Linked DNA regions of Homo sapiens. The protein of the gene in region 1 interacts with the protein of each later gene in a pairwise test. Each region holds a gene or a part of one and is shown in the gene's direction. Other genes may lie near its edges.

Evidence for each region.
Region 2: the proteins of ZNF438 (region 1) and MAGOHB interact in binary tests that used the Homo sapiens proteins (3 or more experiments, as listed by UniProt).
Region 3: the proteins of ZNF438 (region 1) and TBC1D22B interact in binary tests that used the Homo sapiens proteins (3 or more experiments, as listed by UniProt).
Region 4: the proteins of ZNF438 (region 1) and ZNF202 interact in binary tests that used the Homo sapiens proteins (3 or more experiments, as listed by UniProt).

Annotation. Positions count from the first base shown.
Region 1 is NC_000010.11:31,021,846-31,028,874, reverse strand, and holds part of ZNF438 (zinc finger protein 438), read left to right. Parts: intron 1-4,471; exon of another isoform or gene 4,472-5,455; intron 5,456-7,029. UniProt on the Homo sapiens protein: Isoform 1 acts as a transcriptional repressor.
Region 2 is NC_000012.12:10,603,668-10,610,613, reverse strand, and holds the end of MAGOHB (protein mago nashi homolog 2), read left to right. Parts: intron 1-672; coding exon 673-783; intron 784-1,230; exon of another isoform or gene 1,231-1,516; intron 1,517-2,677; coding exon 2,678-2,760; intron 2,761-4,239; coding exon 4,240-4,339; 3' UTR 4,340-6,421; downstream 6,422-6,946. UniProt on the Homo sapiens protein: Required for pre-mRNA splicing as component of the spliceosome. Plays a redundant role with MAGOH in the exon junction complex and in the nonsense-mediated decay (NMD) pathway.
Region 3 is NC_000006.12:37,260,753-37,267,781, forward strand, and holds part of TBC1D22B (TBC1 domain family member 22B), read left to right. Parts: intron 1-7,029. UniProt on the Homo sapiens protein: May act as a GTPase-activating protein for Rab family protein(s).
Region 4 is NC_000011.10:123,731,660-123,738,688, reverse strand, and holds part of ZNF202 (zinc finger protein 202), read left to right. Parts: intron 1-7,017; exon of another isoform or gene 7,018-7,029. UniProt on the Homo sapiens protein: Transcriptional repressor that binds to elements found predominantly in genes that participate in lipid metabolism.

The DNA of each region.
Region 1 (7,029 bases):
CAGTATCTGGTATTCCCCACTGTAGGTTCCGTAGGGGCAAGGTCTGTCTCTTTGACTTCTCTATCTCTAGTCCCTAATCCAGTGCCTGCTGTGTAGTAGATGTTAGGGATGACTTTATATAATGGGCATTTGGTTAGGTTTTGGAAGTTCAGAGATGAATAAAACAGTTCTTTACCTTAGAGGAGCAGGGTATGAGGAAAAACCTGTGGGAATAAAATTAGAGTAGACTAAATGCATAAATACATGCCGATTAGTTCATTTGGGTTTTCTGCACCCTCCCCTCCCCAGCTTCCATGACTTGTGAGATGGGGCATGAAAAGGGCAAAGGGGCAAAAGAATGCCTAAGCTGTTGCAGGATGAAGTTGAGGCTCCCCAAGAGTCCTTTTCAACAAAAGAATTACTCAAAATCATGCATATTTTACTATATTTGCATTAGCTTTATTTGGCAATGATAGAATTTTTACCAAATGAAATAAATTCTGATATTTGACTGTCCTTTTGAAGTGATGAGTTTTTCCAGTTCTATTACCTCAGTGTTGACAGGGCTCACCAGAGAAATAAGGGAGTTGGCTTGAAATGTTGCAGCTTGCATAATAGAGGGTGATGGAGGGGTTGGGTGAAGTATTCAGGCAGGTTTCCACCGGTTTAAGTGTGTCATGCCAAAGTTCCACCTATTGGAATAAGTTTGAGTTTCTTTGCTGACCATCTCTAACATTGACATGTATTTTTTTTTTGTCATAGAAAGGGGATCTGGTGATATATATTGTAGGTGGAATTGCAGATTACATCTCGTATAGCTGGATCATTGTAGAACATGGAGACTAGAAAAATACAAACAAAAAAAGATGTGTCTTGTTCCCGTAGATCTTTCATGGCATACCATAACCTCAACAGTTGTCACAATTTTGTTACTTCCTAACATGAGTATTTCAAATTTAAACCATGTAAGAATTATATAAAATTGCACTGCCGTAGATTTTATGGTTAATTTCAGAATTTTTAAAAATATATAAAATTATATTTTGTTTTAAGCTTTCATTGGGAAAGTATCTAAATAACCAGATCTATGATTACTCTAAACAGAAGCCCTCTACTAACGTAAATGTAGAGGGGTGCCATCTCATTTTGCAGTTCACAACGTTTTAAATCTGCTCTTGTAGCTTCCCTACATTTAATGGAGTTGAAATGATTAGTCTTTATTTACACCACATTTGCAGTTAGTTTCCCAGGAACATCAGATACCCATATATGGTATAAAGTAAAATTGCATAGTCAATAGCCTATTGATGCTCAGGTGTTATTGACTTTTAAGTTCAGGCACAGTGAGGGCAGGTTGATGGTTATTTAATTGTGTCAGGTAGCTCCCAGCAGAGGGGGAGTGATGGTAAGTTCTATCTGAAAACAACAGGACCCTCTGTTTCTAACACTGACCATGCGAAATATAACATCCTAGATAGTAAATAAAATTCAGATTCCTTTTAAAATTTACATTTGCACAAGCAAATTTTAAACTATTTTATGAGTACTTTTATATATATGAAGATTTATTGTTGAAAACAGTGTGTCTAGCCCAGTGATAGTACATACTGAGCATTTAAATATAATTCTTTTTTTAATTAAATTTATTTTTTAAATTATACTTTAAGTTCTAGGGTACATGAGCACAACATGCAGGTTTGTTACATATGTATACATGTCCCATGTTGGTGTGCTGCACCCATTAACTCGTCATTTACATTAGGTATGTCTCCTAATGCTATCCCTTCCCCCTCCCCCGACCCCACGACAGGCACTGGTATGTGATGGTCCCCACCCTGTGTCCAAGTGTTCTCATTGTTCAATTCCCACCTGTGAGTGAGAACATGTGGTGTGTGGTTTTCTGTCCTTGTGAAAGTTTGCTCAGAATGATGGTTTCCAGCTTCATCCATGTCTCTACAAAGGACATGAACTCATCCTTTTTTTATGGCTGCATAGTATTCCATGGTGTATATGTGCCACATTTTCTTAATCCAGTCTATCATTGATGGACATTTGGGTTGGTTCCAAGTCTTTGCTATTGTGAATAGTGCCACAATAAACATACGTGTGCATGTCTCTTTATGGCAGCATGATTTATAGTCCTTTGGGTATATACCCAGTCATGGGATGGCTGGGCCAAATGGTATTTCTAGTTCTAGATCCTTGAGGAATCGCCACACTGTCTTCCACAGTGTTTGAACTAGTTTACAGTCCCACCAACAATGTAAAAGTGTTCCTATTTCTCCACATCCTCTCCAGCACCTGTTGTTTCCTGACTTTTTAATGATCGCCAATCTAACTGGTGTGAAATGGTATCTCATTGTGGTTTTGATTTGCATTTCTCTGATGGCCAGTGATGATGAGCATTTTTTCATGTGTCTGTTGGCTGCATAAATGTCTTCTTTTGAGAAGTGTCTGTTCATATCCTTTGCACACTTGTTGATGGGGTTGTTTGATTTTTTCTTGTAAATTTGTTTAAGTTCTTTGTAGATTGTGGATATTAGCCCTTTGTCAGATGGGTAGATTGCAAAAATTTTCTCCCATTCTGTAGGTTGCCTGTTCACTCTTTATGGTAGTTTCTTTTGCTGTGCAGAAGCTCTTTAGTTTAATTAGATCCCATTTGTCAGTTTTGGCTTTTGTTGCCATTGCTTTTGGTGTTTTAGACATGAAGTCCTTGCCCATGCCTATGTCCTGAATGGTATTGCCTAGGTTTTCTTCCAGGGTTTTTATGGTTTTAGGTCTAACATGTAAGTCTTTAATCCATCTTGAATTAATTTTGGTATAAAGTGTAAGGAAGGAATCCAGTTTCAGCTTTCTCAATATGGCTAGCCAGTTTTCCCAGCACCGTTTATTAAATAGGGAATCCTTTCCCCATTTCTTGTTTTTGTCAAAATTCTACTTCTTGCAATCACTTTTATTTTTGCATTATTATCTTCAACTCATATATATTTGTAGTAGTAGCTGGATGCTTGTTTGTGTACTTTACACTCTAAATGTTTGAATATATTTAAATAATTTATATAAGTAGCACTTATTTTTGCTTCATTTCACATTTGGTTGCTTAAAAATTAAAATCTTTAGGTTTGATTTTAACACATTACACTAATGGCTAATAATTAGTAAGTCTAGGTGGAGACTAAGCTTTAGTGACAGGTTAACCAAGTTTTAACCCCAAAAGAACACCCAGAAGAAAATTCTTAGGGAATAGTAAGCAAAACCAGTATGTCGATGAAAGGAATAATTTAACCATAACTACGTAGCTATTATTCTTCAAGTTGTTACTATTCTACAGGGAGTATTTTCTTATTTGGTTCTTCAATTGCAAAGCTATTAATTTCAGTCTGCATTGCAAGCCACCAAGCAGTGTGAAATAAATACTGGAAGATGATACTGTGAAGAATCTGAACTCAGAATGATTTTTTACTTTCCAACACACTCTGGGGACATTTGGCAATGTCTAGAAAACATTTTTGGTTGTCACATTTGTGTGTGGGGACATTACTCCTAGCATCTAGTGGATTGAGGCCATTATAGCATGTCACTGAATGTCCCACAATGTACAAGACAACTTCTCAACAACAGAAAATTATCCAGTTCAAAATGTCAGTACTCCTGATGTTGAGAAATTCTGTAATATCTTTTCTTCCTTCACTCCCTCCTTCCTTCTGTTCCTCCTTTTTTATTTTTTTATTTTTTTGCTTTAGAAATGGAGGTGGTAGTTTTAAGTGGCAAATGCCTGACTTGGACAAAGGATTGTGTTGTACTGCTTTTAGTTTGTTGGATAGCTGAGCTAATTTGGTTCATTTACTGAATGGGAAATAATTCTTGGAGCTAATAATAGTAGCCTTGAATTTTTTTGGTTGCTAGTGTGTCTAGTGGTTTTGTATTTGTTTTTGGCTATGAATATTTTTCTTACTAAAATTAATTTAATCTGGACTTTATATAATCCTGGATTGTAACAGGTTTCCTAGTGTGAATTCCCTTTATTGTTGTATATGTTAAATTAGCTATTTCACAGTTTCATGGTTTATATCTGTCAAAATCCTTTTCACATTAATTTTCATTTTTGATTGTTACAAACAGCCCATAAAATGTGTAGGGCATGCATTATCCTCACTATTAGACCAATGAAGAAACAGACTTAGGTTAAATGACTTTCCATATGTGTTAATAAGTTAGTGATGAAAGCAAATCTAGAACTTTATACCTAGGAATCTTTTTTTTTTTTTGAGACAGAGTCTCGCTCTGTCGCTCAGGCTGGAGCGCAGTGGCGCGATCTTGGCTCACTGCAAGCTCCGCCTCCCGGGTTCACGCCATTCTCTTGCCTCAGCCTCCCTAGTAGCTAGGACTGCAGGCACCCGCCACCAAGCCCGGCTAATTTTTTGTATTTTTTTAGTAGAGGCGGGTTTTCACCGTGTTAGCCAGGATGGTCTCGATCTCCTGACCTCGTGATCCGCCCGCCTTCACCTCCCGAAGTGCTAGGATTACAGGCGTAAGCCACTGCGCTCGGCCGTACCTAGGAATCTTTTAAAGTTACCAGTTATTGTTATCCCATTTAATCTTCTTGACAATACTGTGAAATAGAGTTATTACTCTCATTTTATAGAAAAAGAAGTTGGTTTAGAGATATTAAATAACCTATTCAGTGCCACCCAACTCATAATGTAGTTTGGCTGTTTCCACTGAGCTATTCTGTGTCTTCAGATATTCTCCAATAAATAAATCTGACAATTTCTGGATAAATTCACAGAATCTTTGCCTAACTTAATTAGGTTTCTTGAAACTCATGTTGCCACTTGAATCATTGGTAATTCAGTGTTTGTAAGCCTATTCTAATTTGACTTAAGTAGAAACTTACCTGAGTTTTGGTAAACCATACTTGCTGGGTAGGGGAGAACCGTGCTTGCAGAAGACAGTCCTTTAAACAGGCAGAGACGTTTTTATGTAGGGTTTTGAGGAAGCACAGAGTTTGAGATTGGCTGATTTTGAAAAGTGCAAAAATTTAAGGATTAGCCAGCTTTAAACTTAGAGTTTAGAGACTGACCGGCTTTGAGGAGCAAAGGTACTGAAGCGGGGCAGTTGCTGATTGGCTTACTTTGTTGGCAAAGTGCTTAAGTGGAAAGGTTGAGTAGACTTTAAGGATGGATTGACTGGGGTAGATTTAAAACTGGTTTTGTGGTTACTTGTTTCCAGCTTAGGACTAGAGCCAAAGAACAATCTTTTCCTTTCTTGAAGTTGAAGAATACGTACTTTTTATGTCAAACATGTTGATGTTAGCTATGGCGCTAATATAACATACTTTTGATTTTGCTTTTCTTCTGAAACTTAAAAGAAAAATGGATGTACAAATATCACTTGTTTTCTGTCTATCAATTTCAGGACAATATATTTGGAACCCAGGCTGCCTCAAGGATTATTTTTATATGTAGTTCAAGAGGTAATATATTATTTGTGGAAATATATTAATGCTTTAAAAATTATGGTGAAGGCTGTGCTGTCTATGGTGAAGGTTATGTCTATTTTTTTTCTCTTTTGGGAGTGTGTTATATTATGTGCCTGCCACAATTAGTCTTGATAGATGCCGAATTATAGATCTAGAAGTCTGTTGTTTTTGCTGTTATTAGAGATACATCTAGAAGTGATTACTTTTTGAATGTTACTTGGAAAGTATTCTGATCAACATTATGAAAGATTAGTGATTATATTACATATATTTTATAGAACAAGGCAAGCAAAATATTTTAGTATTTGCAAATCATGTTACTATAATTATTAGATCATAGTACCATTTATATAAAGTATTAGGTTGGTGCAAAAGTAATTGCGGTTTTGGACCGTGAATTTTAAATCATTATAAGTCGGCTCAGACACGTCTTTATTAATCAGAGCAGGAAGCATTATAATCAACACATTTTTGCCAATGAGAAATAAGTTTGTTCATTCCTGTAGCTTAAAAATTCATGCTTTGGGATTTGGAAAGCATTTTCTGCTTTCCAAAAACCTGCTGGTTTTGGAAGCATTTTCCTTTCAAATAGTTGTCGAGATGCTTGAAGAAGTGGTGGTTGACAAGAGGTCAGGTGAATATGGCGGATGAGGCAAACTTCATAGCTCAATGCATTCAGCTTTCGAAGCGTTTGTTGTGTGTCGTGCGGTTGGGCATTGTCATGAAGAAGAATTGGGCCCTTTCTGTTGACCAACGCTGGCTGCAGGTGTTGCAGTTTTCAGTGCATCTCATTGATTTGCTGAGTGTACTTCTCAGATGTAATGGTTTCACCAGGATTCAGAAAGCTGTAGTGGGCCAGGTGTGGTGGCTCACGCCTGTAATCCCAGCACTTTGGGAGGCCGAGGTGGGTGGATCACCTGAGGTCAGGAGTTCGAGACCAGCCTGGCCAACATTGCGAAACCCTGTCTCTACTAAAAATACAAAATTGGCCAGGCATGGTGGTGTGCACCTGTAGTTCCAGCTACTTGAGAGGCTGAGGCAGGAGAATTGCTTGAACCTCGGAGGCAGAGGTTGCAGTGAGTTGAGATTGTACCACTGCATTCCAGCCTGGGTGACAGAGTGAGACTCCGTCTCAAAAAAAAGAAAAAAAAAAGGAAGAAAGCTGTAGTGGATCAGAGCGGCAGCAGGCCACCAAACAGTGACTATGACCTTTTTTTGGTGCAAGTTTGGTTTTGGGAAGTGCTTTGGAGCTTCTGGGTCCAGCCACTGAGCTGGTCGTTGCCAGTTGTCGTATAAAATCCACTTTTTGTCACACGTCACAATCCGATTGAGAAATGGTTCATTATTGTTGTGTAGTATAAGATGGCACTTCAAAATGACAATTTTAAAAAATTTTCCTTCAGGTCCTGAGGCACCCATTTATTGAGCTTTTTCAACTTTCCAATTTGCTTCAAATGCCAAACGACCGTAGAATGGTCAATGTTGAGTTCTTTGGCAGCTTCTCACTTAGCTGTAAGACGATCAACTTCAATGATTGCTCTCAATTGGTCATTTGTCAACTTCTGATG
Region 2 (6,946 bases), on another chromosome or scaffold:
TATGTGAATGTCTTTTTTTTTTTTTTTTTTTTTTTTGCATTTAGCCCATTTTCTTCAAGTCTGTGTTGAATTTAAAAAAGTACATCTAAGGCTATATTGTAAAGAAGAAGGCAATTTATAGATTGAAAGAGTTTCCATTTAAATTAGATACAGTGTTTGCATCCATAGGAATGAGAAAGTTCAGAGAACTAACCTTGACGTGAACTACACTTGCATTTATTGATTTATTGATTTAGGGACAGAGTCTCGCTCTGTTACCCAAGCTGGAGTGCAGTGGCTTGATCTCAGCTCACTGCAACCTCTGCCTCCCAGGCTCAAGCGATTCTCCTGCCTCAGTATACTTGCATTTATTACAGTTCACCTTATAGATCTTGTGATGACACAAGTTAACCACTTGTGGGTATTTGGATCTCAGTGTTGCAAAGGCAGAATACAGTGTTTGAAAGACAGGTAATGATGAGAAGAGGGAAAAAATGTATGTGAAAGGAAAGGGCAAGAGATGAAGAAAAGCAGTGTAACAAGGATAAGTGATTCTGTCTCCTCTACTTTTGGAATCAATTAAATTTTTCTATATTCCTCTATTTGGATATTCAGGGTTTGTAACTCATTTCTTTCTGAGTTGAGGGGTGACATAGGTGGGCATTATCTCATTTTATTATGATTAATTTTTAGGCTTATGTGCACAAGAGTGTAATGGAAGAACTGAAGAGAATTATTGATGACAGTGAAATTACAAAAGAAGATGATGCTTTGTGGCCTCCCCCTGATAGGGTTGGCCGACAGGTTTGTATTTAGTGATTCTTTAAGTGTATAAATATTAAAAATTGATAATACTATTTTGTTTCCCGTTATTTATTTGGAATGAGTCTAAGTTGATTCTTTGGCTTTCTATTTAATAGGCACCTGGTAAATTCTCTTTAATTTTATCTCTTAGTTCTGTTTTTCTGTGCTACCTCCTAGTAGTGAAGGAGTCAGTGCATAGCTCTAAATTTAGACATCTTTCTCTGTAGTCACCCCAGCCAACGTTAGGATGTTTTCACAATGCAGTGTTATGAATAATTTCTGTTGTGTGTTAATCACTTTTATTAAGAATATGACTATGTAAAATTTATTTTTGCCAAATCATAACTTCTAAAATTCTTACTTGCATCCCTATACCCCAGAGAGAAACTTGATTGGTGGTTTCTTTGTTAAAACTGATGATTGCATTTCCCTCTCATATTCCTTCAGAATAAATGATGTTTCTCAGGCTTCTGAAGAACTCTGAAGGCCTAATTTCACTCTGTAAAAAGAAAGTTTGGTTTCTGAATTGGGTCTTTTCAACTCTTGGAGAAATTCCTTCAACAACCCCTGGAAGGAAGAAACATTTAATTTCACTTTTGTATATCCCTGAGGATTGTACTTTGTATCACCTTCTTTGAATAGAAGAAAATGTGGAGAAATCTAACACATGCTGACACTCTGTAGGAGTAACTTAAGTCTTCTGCTTAAAGAAGCATTATTTAGAAAAGCAAAGGTAATAGTTAACAGTATTTATTTTAAGCATCGTATCACTTTTAAAAAGTAAATTTAGGCCTCAGTTTGTTTTATGCAGATACACATATGTACTAAAAAGCAAACCACAGCAGCTAACCTTTTATATCATTTAGACTCAGGGAGAGCCTAGTATTTTATCTATTCACTTAAGGATGTGTTCATGGGTTTTGGTTAGTGGGGAGGAGTAGGCATGCTTCAGAAATTGCCTTTTGTATCAAGTCAAAGGTTTTATGGCTGTTAGAGCATCTTAGCTAATTCTCCATTCTGTGTGTGTCATAAACTGCATAATTAGGCCTCTGATTAAATAAATAGCTAGGATTGTCTTCAATAGTGTCTGTTAACTTGAAGATTCATTACAGATATAGCTTTTTAATTATTGGTTTTAGGCCTGCAGATAAACAATATAGGGAAAAATCTATACAGTAATTACAGCACACTAGGAACATCTACATTAGGTTGGTTTTTTTTTTTTTTTTTTACTAGTTCTTAATTTTAGTTATTTTGTGGAGTATTAGTTTTGAAGTCTTACCATCTTGGGATCAAATATAAGTACCATCATTATTAGTGGTTATAAATATCAACAAGTATTTTCTTCTGCTCTATGAGTTTTGGATTACACATTTGTAAAATAGGTTAGTAAGGTTATTTTCAAGATTACAGAGAGTACAAAGTCCCTACCACTAGGGCCTGACATACAGTAGGTGCTAAAGTGGTGGTGGTTATTAATATTACACATTTTATTTGTAGAATCTTCCAGAAAGAAAAAATGTGTATTTATCATATTAAAAATGGTCTTATACTCCAATCATTTTTACAACATGTGCTTCAAAGTGATGTCTTTAGTTTTTACTGACATTGTAAGAAATATTTCTTTGTCATTTTGTTTCATAGTGTCTTCTTTATGTCTCTGGAAAGCAATTCTTTGTTGGTCCTAAACTTGGGGGTAGTGCGCGTGAGCAGTCTTTATTTTAAGGATATAGTTTATATCTAAGAAACCATGTTTCTTTCCCCCTCGCCCCCCACTCCCTCTGTTGGCTGCTAGAAAACTTGCAACTAAAATTGGGATCTGCTTGTAGCAAGAATACAGATACCTCTGGGATAGATTTTTATATTAACTACATTTTTCTGCTATATTTTTTAGGAGCTTGAAATTGTAATTGGAGATGAGCACATATCTTTTACCACATCAAAAATAGGTTCTCTTATTGATGTAAATCAGTCAAAGTAAGTATGTTAAAGCATTTTGGCGAAGTTTTCATTATTACAGAGGCTCATTTTAGAACTATAGTCAGTTTGCTAGCCAAGATAATTTCAGTGGCATCCTATCAGTTTATTATGCAGATGTAATCCTGATTTTTATGTCATTAAAGGCTTATTATCTTGTCTCTCAGTAGAAGTTAGCAGAGTATTTCATTGATTGTCCAAAAACTTTTAATCCAACAGCTGTATATAATAATGCCCAAGTTGTATTAGCTACTTTGTATAAAAATGTGGATACAGTATCAGCAAATCCAAAGGAAAGAAATCCTTATTGGATTATGTCAGCCTCATTAGGCCTATATCATCTCACTGTCCTTCTTGGGCTCAATACTTGGGAAAAAGATGGAAAAAATCCATTATGGCCTAAGTATGCTTTAGCTATCGATGTCTTCCCAAGATCTGTCTCTCCTCTGCCCCAGGGTTTTGTAGCACATCCCATTTTCTTGGTCTGATCCTAGCCACTTATTTTTATTTGTGCCCATTCCCCTCAAAGTGTCCCCATAGTGCTCTTACTTTTTTCTGTCACCCTGAATTGTAATAACCTATTTGTCTGCTTTACTGGTTTGAATGTAAGCTCCTTGAGAACCTTGCTGTATCCACAGAGTTAGCATAGTGCCCTGCACATAATAGATGCTTTCAATAAATATTTGTTAGTGGAAAGGAGAAAGGAATGAATGCATGATAACTATTGGACGCAAAATCTGTGTTCACAAAGACCATCCAAATGCTTTTAAACTATCAAATTTCTTTTCCTACATTTGGTAAGGGTGTGGCATTGATACCCTACTGGGATTATAAATTGGTAATGGTTTTTGGAAAGCAGTTTGGTAATATGCATCAAAAACTGTTGACATTTTTCATTCACCTTTGGCCTAGTAATTTCATTTCTGAGCATCTCTTCTATGGAACTATTCCTAAATATTGGAAAAGCTTTATTATGCATGAAGATGCTCATTGAAGTATTATTTATAATAGGAAATTAACCCCAGTGTCTAACAAGGAGAGAATTATTAAATTAATTAAAAATTACTAGGGAATTTTTTTTTTTTAATGCTGTGGGGAAAGTAATGTAAAAAAGGGCACAAGGAATAATTTTAGTTATTAAAAAATAGAGAAACATCAAAATGTTTATAGTTATTCTATGAAATGGTAGCATTACAGTATTATTTTTTTCTGCTTTATTAGACATTTTTATGATGTGGTTATTACAATCATAAGGATATGAACTCTTTAAATACTAAAATGAATACTGATGAAGAAACTATTTTTTCGTATAGAAAAGATATTAATTGTATGTTCATTTTAGTTGTCAGCAAAATCCTTCCTTTCTCCTAAATTTTGTTAACTTAATTGTTATGAGATTTTGATTTGTTTTGTTTTAGGCATTTAAAGAATTGTTTTATCCTAGGAAGAAAAAGTAACTTTTACCTTTTTAAATTTTAGGGATCCTGAAGGCCTTCGAGTATTTTACTATTTGGTACAAGACTTGAAATGTTTAGTTTTCAGTCTTATTGGATTACACTTCAAGATTAAACCAATTTAAATTGTATGTTTTCAGGCTGTTTGTATATTTAATTAAGGGATGGGAGGGGTTATTTGTCATTTACAGTATTGGGGTTTTTATGAATGTGAAGCAAACAAAAAAAATTTGTATGTAAACTGAAAATAAGAAAATACATTAGCAAGCTTAATGGTTATCCTTACTTGAGTCCATATGGGTTGGACAGTCCCCACACACATTAAATTCTGTAAATGAAAGCCACCTTTTGTTAAAAATTTGCTCTAATAAAACATACCAAATCCTGGTTGCAGAGTAGTTTTTTGTTTTTTCCAGGAGGCTATGTCTCTAATTCACTTTAGAGATAATAAGAAATTGTTCTGGTAGATATATCCTGTGACAGAAGATACTTTAGGTGGAACTATGTAGCCAGATTCCCATCCATGAAAGGCAAGTGTAGATTGTCCCTTATTTCCTTCATACATGATTGGATTTAATTTTGGGGGGCTTATACAAGGTCTAGTTTTTTTTTACAGTTATGACAAACCCCTCAGGGATTATTCACATTTAAATATTTTCAGTTATAAGCAGTGAGGTCCTAAAGTGTTACAAGAGTACAGTCTACCCCATGTTAGGCATATCTTTGATTATGTCTTTATTCCTTATTTCACAATGTATTTGGTGTGTAGGGGAGGGGGGAGAACTAAATGAGTTTTCAGCTTTATAAATTGTTAAACATTTAGACAAACATATATGTATGTATGAATGTACATAAATATTTTTAACTCCTATTGACCACGAGTCTCACTTCAGTTTCCCAGTTCCTTTCAACCTCTTTCTGATAGATTTCCTCTTTCATTACTTTTAGTAACCATGTTCCTTGTTTCCTTTTATTCTTCCATCTGAAGCCCCACTCTTAAAAAGTTGCACTGTTCCAGTAGTTATAATCCACTTGCCCTAGGAACAAGTTAGCACTGAATTTTGGGTGGAATAATTAGTTTCTGAAGGCTTGCCAGGACTCCTGAGCAGGTAGGCTCTAGAGTCGGGCAGTCCAATAACTTTTTTGCAATAATGGAAACGTTCTATGTGCAGTCCAATAGGGTAGCAACTGGCCAAATGAGGCCTACTGATTACTTGAGGTGTGCCTTGTATAACTGAATTTATGGTGCTATTTAAACAATTTTTTTCTAACGTGAAAAGGATAAAACATTAAAAACTCTTGAGAACTATAAAGTGAACACCTATATGCCTACCCCTACCTAGATTCTATACTTAACATCTTTTTTACTGTAATATCTCTATTATAATAAATCTTGGTTTTTCACTTAACTGGTGTAATTGGTGCCAATAAACTACTTTTTTTGTAGTGCTATTTAATTTTGATTAAATTTAGGTAGCCACGTGTCTAGCGGCTACCGTTTGGACAGTATAGCTCTAGAGCATGGCTTGGTAACCTGTTTGCCATGGAGCACTAGATGGTCCTTTTCACTCCTCAAAATGCATGCCCATTGTCTTCAGGTTTGCCATGGAAAGTCAAATGATTTCCACTTCATTATGCAAGTACGCTATCATCTTCAGGTCTTTTGTATGTAAAATGTTTCTGTTCCAGTTGTAGACCTTGATGATTGTGCAGTATGAAATCGTATTGTAATTTTCTTGCATTTAGATGTCAACCTCAGAAACAGGAACAATCGTCTTTTGAACTTCCAGTAGGCCCACAGTTGTTGGTTGTTCCTCAAAACAGGTTGTGGCTCCTGTTGAATAAGATGATCCATTAAAAACTGAACAAGGTTGAGGAGAAATAGTGCTTACGTTGAAAAATCTTTAAGTCTTTGTCCCCGTTCTCTAACTTCCTTACGTTTTCGTTTATTTAGCTCTATCCCCACTATCTACTAGAATTTCTCATATTTAAACCAAGATGGGAGACTAGGTCATTAGGAAAATATTACCGTCTACAATTTTCTTATACTTTGATCTGTCTTTTATTTGATTGTAAGTTGCTGATGGACAGTGATCATTAGAAACTGAATTTTGTATAATACTAGTTTTATATGAAACTAGATTTTTATTGCGCTCAGGTTATGTTCCTTTTACCTCCTTCCTTAATAAAGAGACCACTTGAAATAATCAGACTTTTTCCAAGTACTGTCTGCACCTCATCCCACCTCTTCCCCATTCATGAGATAGTGCAGAACCCTAGCACAGTCTTTTCCATATAGTAGGTGTTTTTTAAGTTTGTTGAATTGGTTGCTGTCTTGCTCTGTCCTTAGATTATTTGCCTTTAGATTATTTATCTTTGGTATTTCATTGGTATCAGGCTGAGTCTATTTGTATGGATATTTTTAATGTAAATATTAATGTAACTGAGATGATTTATATATTCTATTGTTAGACTACTTCGTTTTGATTTGAAATGTGTGAACCTATGAGCATGGACTGTGCTGTAAGTTTAACCACTGACCCCTTTAATTAATAACTGGATTCCTAGCATGAATGGATAATGAAGTCGAATAGAAAATTTTAAAAATTTAATAAACAACAAAGGTAAATGAAGGATTTGAGGGTGAGTTCAGAATCTGCCTTGGCTGACTTCCGTATGATGATCAGTAAAGTTGGATAACTACCACTCAAAATCTCTGGCATCTACCTTGT
Region 3 (7,029 bases), on another chromosome or scaffold:
TGTGAGTGGCTTCTTTTATTAAGCACAGTGATTTCAGGCTTGTCCACGCTGTAGTATGTATCAGTACTTCATTCCATTTTATGGCTGAATAATATTCCATAGTATACATACACCACATTTTGTTCATTCATCAGTTGATGGATATTTGAATTGTTTTCACTTTTGGGCTATTGTACGTAATGCTTTTATGAACATTTATGCAGAGGTTTTTGTTTGGATATATATTTTCTATTCTTCTGCTGATAAATAGGAGTGGAATTGCTGGGTCATGTAGTAACTTGGTGGAACTAAGCATCTTTTAAGTTCTCTCAGTTATTCACATGAGCCCCATTTACTTAGCACATCAAATGGTCATTGTATTAATGCCTAGAAGATAAGAGGCAATCTCTACCATTGCAGGCTTTGGCAGGTGTGGTGGCCTGTAATCCCAGAATTTTGGAAGGCTGAGGCAGGTGGATCGCTTGAGGCCAGGAGTCCGAGACCAGCCTGGCCAACGTGGTGAAACCCCCCATCTCTACTAAAAATACAAATTAGCTGGGCTTGGTGGTGTGTGCCTGTAGTCCCAGCTACTCAGGAGGCTGATGCCCAAGAATCTCTTGAACCTGGGAGACGGAGGTTGCAGTGAACTGAGATTGCGTCACTCCACTCCAGCCTGGGCAACAGAGCAAGAGATTGTCTCCAAAAAAAAAAAAAAAAAAAAATGCAGGCTCTGAAATCTGACTGCCTAGGTTAAAATCCCAGCTCTGCTTTCTAGCTATGTGATCTTATGGGATTTAATTAACCTCTCAATGCATCAGTCTCCCCATCTCTAAAATAGGGACAGAGTATCTGCTCCATGGGGCTGTTATGAGGATTAAATGAGATAATACATAATAATTGGTTAGGAGGTACACAATAATATTAGCTATTATAAGAAGGATAGTTACGATGATAGTAGCTATCATTTTTGTTTTCTCTCCTTGCTTCAGTTTTTGAAACTGAAATTGAAAAGCTTTGATCTGGTTGGGTGTGGTGGCTCACACCTGTAATCCCAGCACTTTGGGAGGCTGAGACAGGTGGATCATTTGAGGTCAGGAGTTCGAGACCAGCCTGGCCAACATGGTGAATCTCCGTCTCTACTAAAAACACACAAAAAAATTATCTGGGCTTGGTGGCACAAACCTATGGGGGAAAAATAAAAAAGCTTTGGTCAGTGTGTGTGTGTGTGTGTGTGTGTGTGTGTGTGTGTGTGTGTGTGTGTGTGTCTAGAGCTCGGGCACAGGAGAAAAAAAAAATCACCTTTTTTTTTTTTTTTTTGAGATGGGGTCTCCCTCTGTTGCCCAGGCTGGAGTGCAGTGGCACGATCTCAGCTCACTGCAGCCTCTACCTCCCAGGATTAAACGAGTCTCCTGCCTCAGCCTCCTGAGTAGCTGGGATTACAGGCACATGCCACCATGCCCAGCTAATTTTTGTATTTTTAGTAGAGAAGGGGGTTTCGCCATGTTGGCCAGGCTGGTCTTGAACTCTTGACCTCAAGTGATCTCTTGACCTCAAGCCCACCTCAGCCTCCCAAAGTTCTGAGATTATAGGTGTGAGCCACCGTGCCCAGCCCTGGCTAATTTTTGTATTTTTTGTAGAGACAGGTCTTGCCATGTTGCCCAGGCTGGTCATGAACTCCTGGGCTCAAGCAGTCTGCCCACTTCATCCTCCAAAAGTGTTGGGATTACAGGCATGAGCCTCTGCGTCTGGCCAAAATCGAAATTACCTGAGTCTTCCAGGCCCTTCGTTGTTAGAAAGAGAGGCCAAGTTAAGAACTTGAAGCCGATCCTAAAATAATAATGAATCTGATAGGAGACTTAGTGTAAAAGTCACAGCCTGTCTGGGCAGGTACATTACAACTTGTTCTTGGCTTGGAGATGTTTTACTGGTAGAGTGAGTGACTAGAAGATACTAAATTATCATCGAAACAGCATAGATCACCTGTTCTGGAAGACTAATGTGGAGTGAGTGTGTGAACCTACATCAGTTGCCAACACGTTTGGCATTTAAATTTGATGGGTCTTTTTCCCATATTTGCACTAGCTCTTTTATCAGTGCTAAACAAACACCTGTTGATTTTTCCTACCAAGATGTTTGCACTGTTTCAACTAGGCAAAACAGCTATGTCAATACATTCTATGGTGTTGGTTTTATTAAAGAGAGTGACGGAGATTAATCAGAACTTTTGTTCCATTTTGTCTGCGTGGCAGCATATTCCATGGCATTCTTTTCTCTGCATATGTGGTGTGATTTCTTCGAGATGCAGTGTGTTAACTAACCTCTGGTTTTTAGGTCTAGCTTAAGTGGAGGCCTAGGTTTTGTAGAGATCTAATCTTCACTTACTAAATATTGTTAAGTGCCTGCTGGTATGTGTCATGCTCTGCCAGGTGGCAAGGGGGCTACAGAAAAAGATATGGCACCACTATGGCTTTCTAGGAGCTAAAAAATCTGCTTGGCATCATGGCTTCCCCTGGAGAAGATGCTGTGTATGATTGACTTTCTGGTTTTTCCACTAAACATATGTTATATTTGTAATCAGACAAACTTAAAAGTGGAATTGGGTGAAAACACATTGTTGAATGCAAAGAGCAAGATGTAGAAAGATATGTGCAATGTGCAGTCTTTTATGTGAAGTTTAAAAACATAAAAAATACTGTGTGTTGTTTATGGATCTGTGAATATATGTAGAGGAATAAAAACAGATGGGAGGAGTTCCCTCCAATTTCAGAATAATTGTTATCTCTTGGGAAGTGAAGAAACAGGACTAGGGACTGCAATTAGGGCATCAGTAGTCTAACACTTTGTTTTTGTTTTGTTTTGTTTTGTTTTTTTGACATGGAGTCTTACTCTGTTGCCAGGCTGGAGTGCAGTGGCCCGATCTCCGCTCACTGCAACTTCCGCCTCCCGGGTTCAAGCGATTCTCCTGCCTTGGCCTCCCGAGTAGCTGGGACTACAGATGCGTGCCACCACACCCAGCTAATTTTCTTGTATTTTCAGTAGAGATGGGGTTTCACCATTTTGGCCAGGATAGTCTTGATCTCCTGACCTCATGACCCACCCACCTTGGCCTCCCAAAGTGCTGGGATTACAGGCGTGAGCCACTATGACCGGCCTAACACTTTTTTTCTTAAATGAAATGTGACAAATGTTAACATTTGTAAATCAGAGTGATGGGTTTGTGGATGTTTATTATATCATTTTCTGTACTTTTCTTTGTGTTTGAAAATGTCAATTAAATGCTTTTTCACTTGTGTTAGAGCAAATGTTTTGTATTTTTTTTTTTTAACTTGTGTTGGAGAGATCAGCCAGTTAGCCATGGAATTAAGTAAAATTTAAAGTAACATGATTTAGAGTCAAAATAAGTCATATTTACAGTGTGATGTTATTTATATAAAGTTTAAAAAACATGCAAAATCATACATTATTTAGGGATACATACATAGAAAATAAAAATATAAAAATGAGTGTGAAAAATGCCAGATCCAATAGAGTGGCTTGCTAGGAAGGGAGGGAGGGGTATGCCAGGGTGTTTTGTTTTGTTTGGTTTTGTTTTGTTTTTGACACGGGGTTTCACTCTTGTTGCCCTGGCTGGAGTGCAATGGCACGATCTCGGCTCACCGCAACCTCTGCCTCCCAGACTCAAGCAATTCTTGTGCCTCAGCGTCCTGAGTAGCTGGGATTACAGATGTGTGCCACCAAGCCCAGCTAATTTTTATTTTTAGTAGAGATGGGGTTTTGCTGTGTTGGCCAGGCCAGTCTCGAACTGCTGGACTCAAGTGATCTGCCTGCCTCGGCCTCTCAAAGTGCAGGGATTACAGTGCCCAGCCCTGATTGTGTCTTATATTATGATCTAAATCTAGTTTATTTTTAAAAAGTAATATAAGCCCTAATTTATGTATGTTAGGGAACTAGAGAAGACATGAGTTAGTAGATGCTGGGGGTAGGGGTATGGAAAGTTTCATGAGGGGTGTAGAATTTGAAGAGAATGTTGCAGGATGGATACAATTTTGAAAAGGGATGTAGAAAATAGAAAAGCATTCCAAGTAGGGAAAAGAGCCTTATTTAATAATGGGTTTAATAAGTTTGGAAGGTGGAGTGGAGATCAGTCTTTCTTAGAGCTGAGTTTGGGTTTGGAAGGAGTAGGTATGGTACAGACAGTGAAAGGTGAATTATAAATGTCAGGAAATTGAGCACCTTAATCATTGGGCTCTTCTGGTCTATCTCCATTTAGTCTCTGTGATCATCTCGGTTTCTCTTTTCTAAATTCTTGCCTGTCTTTTTTAAGCTGCAATAAGCTGATTTATTATACAAAGTGTTCCAGTTTTAGATACATCATGGTTCAGTTCAAGAATATGTTAACAAATTCAATTTGGGCCCTGATACCTTTGCTGATGAAGTCCATCATTTATCTTAGCCTTCCTGGCTATGCCAGCACCTTGGGCTGACAGCTTTAAAAAATAGTCTACTGTGATTTTAAGATTCCTTTCCTAGATGGTAATTGATGGCCTCTGGCCCTTCAGCCTGCACAAATTAGGTTTGCTTTTCTTCTGCATGGGTTACTGGCAGATGGTAATACTTCTTTAAGGTAATACTCTCTTATTTTTCTACCCAGTCACCTTACCTAACCGGCCTGTTGAGATCTTCCTGCAGTTTATCCTCTGATTTTATATTTTATTGTGAGGAGGGCTTGTGGGCTTGAAGAATTCAGGTGTACTCTTAGATTATTTGCAGCTGCTAATGTGCATATCAGTAGCCCTTTGGGTTTTTTTTTTTTTCCCGTGGTCAGTGGGGGTGTCTAACACCCCCTTCCTCTCTCAGCAGAACTTTCCCTTTACTCTTTGATTCCTCTTTTTTTCTCTCTGCCTAGGAAACCCTTTAAACACATCAATTAGTATTGTTTTCAAAGTTTGTATTTCTGTAGTAATATATGTAATAGTTTGCTTACACATTACTTATTAATCTTCCAGAGAGGTTTAGGGAGTAAAGATTCTTATAGCTAAAGAAGTAGGGACTGTATTCATAAATTAAAGATTATATGTAAGATTTCCTCTGAAATCTTAATAGGAATCAATGTGAAAGTGATTGATTTGGCTATATTTTTATTTAAGAGCATCCTTTAGGATCACCTCTGTTATGTGAAACAAGTATTTGGTAAGCTTGTTTCAATTTCTAAATGTTGAGTATGGATTAAATTATAAAAATGGGAGGGAGGAAGAAAATCAACATTTCTTGGGCACTGAGTGTTTGCTGGGTAGTGTTCTAACATTTGCAAATCTACGTCACTTCCTGCTTAACATTAAATTAGCATTACCACCCACCAGGAATTGTGCTAAAGGGCTTTCAACATATCGTCCCACTTAAACCTTCTAACCTTCTCAAGATCGCTTATTTCTTATAAAGGTGATACTTGTACATGATACTAAATCAGAAAGGGTTTGCAGTGAAAACTAAGTCTCTTTGGTGTCCCATCATCTTCCAGTCATCTGGTTCCTATTCCAAACTGCTGCTACCAGTGTCTTTTGTATTCTTTCAGATACTCTGATATTCTTTCAGATACATAGACCTAATCATACATAAAATGCATGTATCTATTTTAAAGATTTTTATAAAAATGGTGTCATACATGTAGTTCTGCATCTTTTTTCAATTAATGTCTGAGTTTATTTCATGTCAGTGAATATAGAACTGCCTCATTCTTTTTTTTTTTTTGAGACGGAGTCTTGCTCTGTCCCCCAAGCTGGAGTGCAGTGGTACAATCTCGGCCCACTGCAACCTCCGCCTCCCCAGCTCAAGCCATTCTCCCGCCTCAGCCTCCTGAGTAGTTGGGATTACAGGTGCCTGCCACCATGCCCGGCTAATTTTTGTATTTTTTAGTAGAGATGGGGTTTCACCATGTTGGCCAGGCTGGTCTTGAACTCCTGAGCTTAGGTGATCTGCCTGCTTTGGCCTCCCCAAGTGCTGGGATTACAGGCGTGAGCCACCGCACCTGGCCAGAACTGCCTCATTCTTTTTAAAAGATATACTGTAATTTATTTAACTACTTTCCTGTTGGTAATTATCCTTTCTATTTTAATAGGTAAGTTAGCTCCTTTATATTTATTGGAATAACTGATATATTTAGTTATTTAGTTTAAGTTCAATTTTTAATATTTTCTTCGTCTTTTTTTTTTTTTTTTTTTTTTTTGAGATAAGGACTTACTCTGTTGCCCAGGCTATAGTGCAGTGACACGATGATAGGTCACTGTAGTCTCAAACTCCTGGGTTCAAGTAATCCTCTCACCTCAGCCTCCCAAGTAGCTAGAAGTACAAGCATGCACCACCACAGTTGGCTAATTTTTAAATTTTTTGTAGGTACAAGGTCTTGCTACGTTGCTCAGGCTGGTCAAACTTCTAGCCTCAAGCAGTTCTCACACCTCAGCATCCCAAAGTCCTGGGATTACAGATGTGAGCTACCATGCTTGCCCTTTTAAAAATATTTTCTTCTTAAAAAAGTCTTTCACTATGTGGACTGTGCTTGCTTTTGAGGGGAGGACATACATATATATATATATATACACACACACATATATAATATATATATACACACATATATAATATATATACACACATATATAATATATATATACACACATATATAATATATATATACACATATAATATATATACACACATATATAATATATATATACACATATATATAATATATATACACTATATATAATATATATACACTATATATATAATATATATATACACTATATATATAATATATATATACACATATATATATACACACACACATATATATATTCTGATAATTTGGAAGATTTATCTTTTTATTTTAGTGATTGTGTTTATAAGTGTAACTTTATACCATATTTCTTCAGACAGTACCTGTTGGCTCCCTACCATGAGTAATGATGAAATTAGTAAGTATATTTCCTCACCCCTCTCTTCCCACCTGCTTCTAGTTGATTATATTATTTTTCTTGGTTTTATTTTCTGTCGTAA
Region 4 (7,029 bases), on another chromosome or scaffold:
ACCTCCGGTCAGCTCTGTTATATATGTTATTGCGTTATTTCCCATTAAATGATGGTTCCTCTGACTATCTGATTGGCATTGACTATGTTTGTTGTAGAGATTGCATACATCTAGTTTAACTCTGGCTGTCAAATGAGAGCAGTTACTCTTATCAGGATGGGTGTCAGGTTTGATGTCCCCTCCTTTTCCTGCTTCAGGTTAATTTGTCATGTTCTGTTTTAAACTGAGACATATAGCTTGACCTCCTTTATTTAGGCCATTAACTGCTCTGGGGTAGTTTTCCTGAAGGTTAAAAAGCCTAGCTTCATGATGGAGGTTAACCAACATGACCATGATGGCCAGGTGTATAAATCTGGCCTCTTAAAAATCTGTATTTGAGGCTGGGTGCAGTGGCTCACACCTGTAATCCTAACACTTTGGGAGGCCAAAGCTGGCAGATCACTTGAGCCCAGGTATTTGAGACCAGCCTGGGCAACATGGCAAGACCCCTTCTCTATAAAAAATTTAAACATTAGCTGGGCATGGTGGCATGTGCTGTAGTCCCAGATACTTAGGAGGCTGGGGTGGGAGGATGGCCTGAACCTGGGAGGCAGAGATTGCAGTGAGTTGTGATCTTGCCACTGCACTCCAGTCTTAGCAACAGAGTAAACCCTATCTCAAAACTTAAAAATCTGTGTTTGGCCCCTAGCCGTCCTCAGCTCTTGAGTAAATCTCAGCATCCTAGGCTGTTACATTATGGCCCAAATATTCAATAGAGATGCTGTATATCCTTGTTCCTCTCAAAACCCCTCCTCATCACCATCAAAAAGCTGGTTCAGTTCTCTACCTTTAGATAAAGAATCATCCCAAGACTCAACATGAGCTGCCGTGACTTGTCCAAGATGACACCTCTTTACAATGTAGAGCAGTGGACAGAACACAGGTCACCCTCCGCCGAAGGCAACTATCTACTGTCTAACATTGCCTCCTAGGCCTGCCATATATAACCATCAAAAACAGTTTAGAATAAAGTGAATTGTTACAATTTTTATTTTTCATTTTTGTGTTTACATTTACTCTCAATGACATGTTTATTCCCACCTAATATCTTGAGGCTAACCACAAAATCTGCAGCATTTCCAGACAGAAGATACTTGTGACTTCCCTGTACTATCCACTACATACTTGACCTCTTTCTCTTTCTTCCTGTCTTCCCTTTCTCTATACCTTATTGTCTTTCTTTGGAACCTCTTGTAACAAATTTTGAGCCATTTCTCCCCTCACTACTCAAATATCACTTTTATGAAGGGGCGGGGGGGAAACTTAGGTGGCAAAAATATTTTACAGAAACAGTTTTAAACATGTTTTGAAGCATACTGGTCACGTGTTAGAAGGCCAAAAGCCAGGGAATTCATTCCCTTTCATTCATTGTGCTGTCTAGGTTAAGTTTTCACAGGACTTCTTGGTACACTGAGTTTGCCTCAGATTGTCTCCTGCCAGTTACAGGGAGTGGAGAGGACTTTGATATATTGGTAATTAGAAGCATTGCTGATATGGTCTTCGGTGGGAGAACCTGTGTCTAAGGTTCCTTCTCATCTGTATTCCAACACTTTCATTTAATCCTACTTCATAAGTGCCTCCAAAGCAAGGATTTTTTTTTTGGTTTAGCATGGTTTCTTTGATATAACAATAGACCGACCAAGATTTTCCTTATGCCATCTGTTTTTTTGTAATTATGATGCAATAGAGAACTGTTTGCTTGTTTATCATTTAAATCTTGCCTTCTTCCCAAAACGATTTCAAATAGCTTGAAGGAAAATGAATAAAATATATTGAGCACCTACCCTATGCCAGACTCTATACTGAAGGGTTTCTATAGGTTATTTCATTTACTCCTTAAAACAACCACATGAGATAAGTAGTATTAGCCACATTTTTGAGGATAAGACTGAGGCTTAGGGAAATTGTGTTACAAGGCTAATAAGCGAGGTCAGGGATTCGAGGTCAGGGATTCAAACCCAGCGTGCCAAGGCCACTAACCATTATGTGGAAAGCTTAGGTAAGCGCTTGTATATAGGACAATCAAGAATAAAAGAATATGTCCATTAGAAGGATTGTACTGGGCTAATCTTTCGTTTTAAAGAACAGCAGCAGCATTGGAAAAGAGCGGTTAACAGTTTTTATTAGCCAATTTCTATTCTAGAACACTGAGAGGAGCTGTTGACAGGCCCTGGTTAGCCCCAGCAAGTAGTTGTATTAAAATTACCAAACTATAGGCCTGCATTAAGGTATAAAATAAGAATGGGGACTGGAAGGGATATAAATATCTGCTAAATATAATAATTTCAGTTCTAATCACTATTTTCTTCTGAAGATTATTTGCCAGTACATAGGCAGATCACTGTCTCTCCTTTAGGTTGATGGTATATGACTACAGACTTTGTCATTTAGGGTCCAGAAAGATCACCCTAGCTAGTAGCGTTTTAAGGTAGAGAACTAGATATTGTTTCATTGCCTGTGGTTTTCTGTTCTTGTAAGAGAATTGAGCTTGGGTCTTCACTGCCACGTGACACCTTCAGATAAGGGGCAGAGACAGCTGGCCTGAGGATTGTACAGAGGTCTTACCTTGATAGCTCCTCTCCAATCCTATGCATCCTAGGAACACTCAAGACACTAGGTTGTATCTTTGCAGATACTGTTTTAGTGTCTTCTGGAACCAAGTCTCTTACTTAATCCTGGCCTGGTTTCATATTCTCTCTATTGTATTCTCTCTATAGTTTTTGTCTTACTCTGGAACTCTTCCAAGGACAGACATTGAAGAAAGGTATTAGAATAGCAAAGGCAACAAATTGCAAGGTATACTTATGGCATAGCACATCCCATTAATTATAGAATAAAAACACAACATCTGTTTTCTGCCTCTAATATTAAATCTTGACATTTGCACAACACATTTTAGTTCATAAAGCTCTCATATCTCAGATAATCACTGAGTTAGGAGACTGGTTATCTGCAGAGGGCTTTATCCTTTACAAGGGCTCTTGGGTACGTTACTTCACGAAACCCTCAGGGAAGCTCCAGTTTCTTGGGGATCTGGGGCCGGGGCATATGTCTTTGGATACCCAGTTTGGTGCTGTGCACAGCACTGCTGTACCTCCTATTCATTTCCCATCTCTTACCCCACAAAGACTCCTTCCTTCATTCCTTCTATTGCTGATCTGTTTTCCTTCATCTTCCTAGGCTGCCAAAGTAAATGCAAAACAAGCACCAGAAATCTCAGCTTGTGATTTCTGAAGGGCATTTTTAAATGGCAAGTTTGGTGTGGCACTGTTACATGTTCTTTTTTCTTTGGAGAGCAAAGCCCTTTGAGAGAGCAGGAACTCTTCTGTCAATGCATACGTTGTAGGATCCATACTGTGGAATCTCTTGTACCTAGTGCTGCGTGAAAACAATGAGGATTCCAAGTCTACTTCACTGGACGTCGGTTCTCAAACTTTTAAGATACTAGAAGTCCTTTTATTAAGCCAAAAGACCCTATGTATTAATTCTGTCTTCCAGGGGTAGGAGTTGGGGTGGGGTTTGGAAAGCTTTGTCTGGATAAATAATTAGTATTGTAGTTCCATTTATTTGATGTCTGATTTTGCGCTTATTAAAATTGATTTAAATCCTCAATGGAAAATGATTTTTTTTTTTTCAAATGCCAAGTGTTGTGTGACTTGCATTTGGATTATTCCCGGTGCAACCTGAAGATTCCTTGTGATGAGTTGTGGTTCCATCATCTTGGGAACCACTAAGAGAATTCTGTTTTACTCACAATCCAAACAATAAATGTTTTTTTCCCTATGTATGCCTTTATCCAGCACACAGTTTGCTAGACTTATGGATGAATATGGGTTAATATAACATGGTATCTATCCTTCTGGAAACAGACTTTTAAAACCTTACTAAGCATTCTCTGCATTCATCAAATGTGAAGTGAGTGCCTGGTGTGTGCCAGGCATCGAGCTGGGCACAGCATATCCCTGCCCTCAGAGCTTTACAGTCCAGTGAGTTCAACAGAAGATGAACAGTTTTGATGACACAAAAAATAGACACATGTGCATGCTGTGATAGGGGGAGATACAAGTTCCTGTGGAAGCATCATCTGGGAGGACCAGGGAAGGCATCTTGGAAAAACTGAGCTCTGAAAGATGGATAGAGTTAACCACATGAAGAGTGGAGAAGGGTACTTCAGACAAGGTGAACAGCATCAGGAAAGCCCAGGGAGGGTATAGAAAAGAAAGAACAGTAATTCTTGCAGTGGCTTTCAATGGGAGTGGCAGTCATGGAAGGAAGGAGAGGTAGCAGGGACCAGCTTTTGAAGGTCTTTGTGTATCACATTTTAAGAAGTTTAAATTTTAACCTAAGGTCACTGGGAAGCCATTGGCAGATTTTGTATGTTAGGAAGTTCACCACTCACCTACTTGGAGTATTGCAGGTGGAGCTAATGTGGATGGGCCTCCTGCCCATTATTAAATCCTGTTCCTGTCAGGAACAGGACAGCCCATGCTGTCTCTCCCTGTGTGTCTGTCTCTCCCTGTGTGTCTGTCTCTCTCTCTCTCTCTGTCTCTCTCTCTCAAAAGCTAAAGGAAAGCGCATAGGTTCCAGAAGGAAAAAGAAATAACCACTAGAAAAATAAGTATAAGCTGACTTTACCATGGCGCAGTGAGATTCCAAACCAAAATAAGGTTTCTAGGGATTGAGCTTTTAATACTGGTACTCCAACAGGGAGATAGGACTTGGGAAGCTGACGCTGTGTGAAAGTTACAGAATTAAGCAGCCTGCAAACCTGGACCTTTGAAAATCGTCCTACTGACCCAGGAAAAGTGCAAGGAAGTGGGTTCTCCAGAACCTTGGGTAGGCCAAACATTACTTGAAGGCATCGATCTAAATAATACACAAAAGCATTATTCAGGAACACCCTGAGAAATTAACATAAAAACTGATTTGGCCAGGCATGGTGGCTCAGCCTCTGGTAACAGTGCTTTGGGAGGCCAAGGTTGGAAAATCACTTGAGGCCAGGAGATCCAGGCTGTAGTGAGCTATGATTGTACTACTGCACTCCAGCCTGGGCAACAGAGGGAGAGTCTTAAAAAAGCAAACTGTCCAAGATCATTGAAACCATTAGCACTTAGGAAGAAACAAATGAAATTACATTCAAGGGGCTCACATTTAAATCCAGGGCTCTCAGGACTCCCAAAGTAAAAAGATGGACATAAAATAAAAAAATTACAAGCCACTTGAGAAAAAAATAAATCACCATGAGGTAGAGATAGCAGAGGAAAAATTACACATGAAGATCTAGGAATTAGGGAGCTATCCAAGATAGACTGTGAAAGTATGTTGCAAGTGACTGAGGGTAATGAAAAAAATGTCATAAGAGCATGAATTAGAAGCGTTTTGAGAAAGAATGAAGATAATGTGATCATTGACTGTAAACTCATTTGATGGGCAACAATAGATGAGACACAGCTATTAAGAGTGGATCGATAACCTTGAATGTGGATGTGAGGCAACTGTAGTATAGCACAAAAAGGTTGAGAAATGATGGAGCCCTTAAGCTGCTTGTGGACACTGGTCTGGAGGGGGACAGGACCAAGAAAACCAGTCATGGAGGTTGAACTAAGTCATCTCTCCAATGTATCCGTGCCTGTTACGTGCCAGTGCCGTTTAGGAGCAGAGGATATTGTAATTTTTTTTAAAGTTCCTATGAATACCTTCTAGTGGGTCATAATGGCTCAACCGGGAAATGGCAGTAGAGATGAAGAGATGGATGGATTCGAAAGACATTTTTTGGAAGTTGGAATTAACAGGATATGGTGAATAATCAAGAGATAGTAAAAGCATAATGGAGGAAACAATGGTTCTTCCTGTTACCATAGGAAGAAGCTTTGGAGTAGAGTTTTATTCATTTTAAATGCATTTATTGTGCACTTTATTATAGGTATTGGAGATTGATGGAAAATAGTCTCTGACCTCAAAGAGTTTCACAGGAAAGATGAGCGATGGCTATGTAATATGACCAATACTGGGATAGAGAGGTGCCCAGGTCACTACGGGAGGACTTAGGTGATTTCTAACTATGTCTGAGAGTAGGGGAAATGGGATCAAAGAAAACATCTCAGAAGACATGAAGCTTGAGCTTATGTCTTGAAAAATTTAAAGTTTAACCTAACCAAGGATAAAGAATCAGAAGAAACAGCATATTCAAAAGCTAAAGAACACGGGACTCTTGTGTGCTTTGCATGTACACACGTGTGTGCGTGTGTGTCTGAAAGGATTGGAGAGGAGGGCGAAGAGAATAACAAGATGAACGTCAACCTAATGTAGAATGTTTGAAGTTTGTATTTCACTTAACAAGACAGCGGGGAGTGATGGAAGGATCTTAGATAGGAAAGGGACATGAGCACGTTTGCCAAGAGAGCTCGTTCTGATCATAGTGGGTACGTGAAGGTGACAAATCTGGAGGCAGATAGCTCACATTTGGAGGCAGTTGCAGTCATCCAGATGAGAAGTGAGAGGGACCTAAGCTGTAAATTGTGGGAATAAAGACAAGACCCGTTAAAAAGAAAGAGAACACACCATGTAGCGTGGAAAGGAGAAGGGTGGAGAGTAGCCTGTGCAGAAGGAACAACCTTCAAAAAGACATGGAAGACTGAAAAGACACCCTGTTGTAGGGAGATCAGCAATGCATTTTTTATAACCAGGTGATACAGGGAAAAGGTAGGATCTGAAGCTTGAAAAATAGATTGGGGGCTGATTGTAAAGAGCTTCGTGTCATTCCCAGGATTTTGGAACTGATTTTACTAACATGAAAAAGGTTTTGTTTTAAAATACTGAGTAATATAGTTGGAACTATAATTTAGAAAGATAATAGCTGGTGCCATCACTCTTCTAAGCAAAGATAGTAATACATTTAATGCTCATAGGCTTTAGTAATACATTTAATCCTTACAGTAAGCCTATTAGATAAAAACCATTATTATCTCCCTTCTATAGACAGAGAAACTG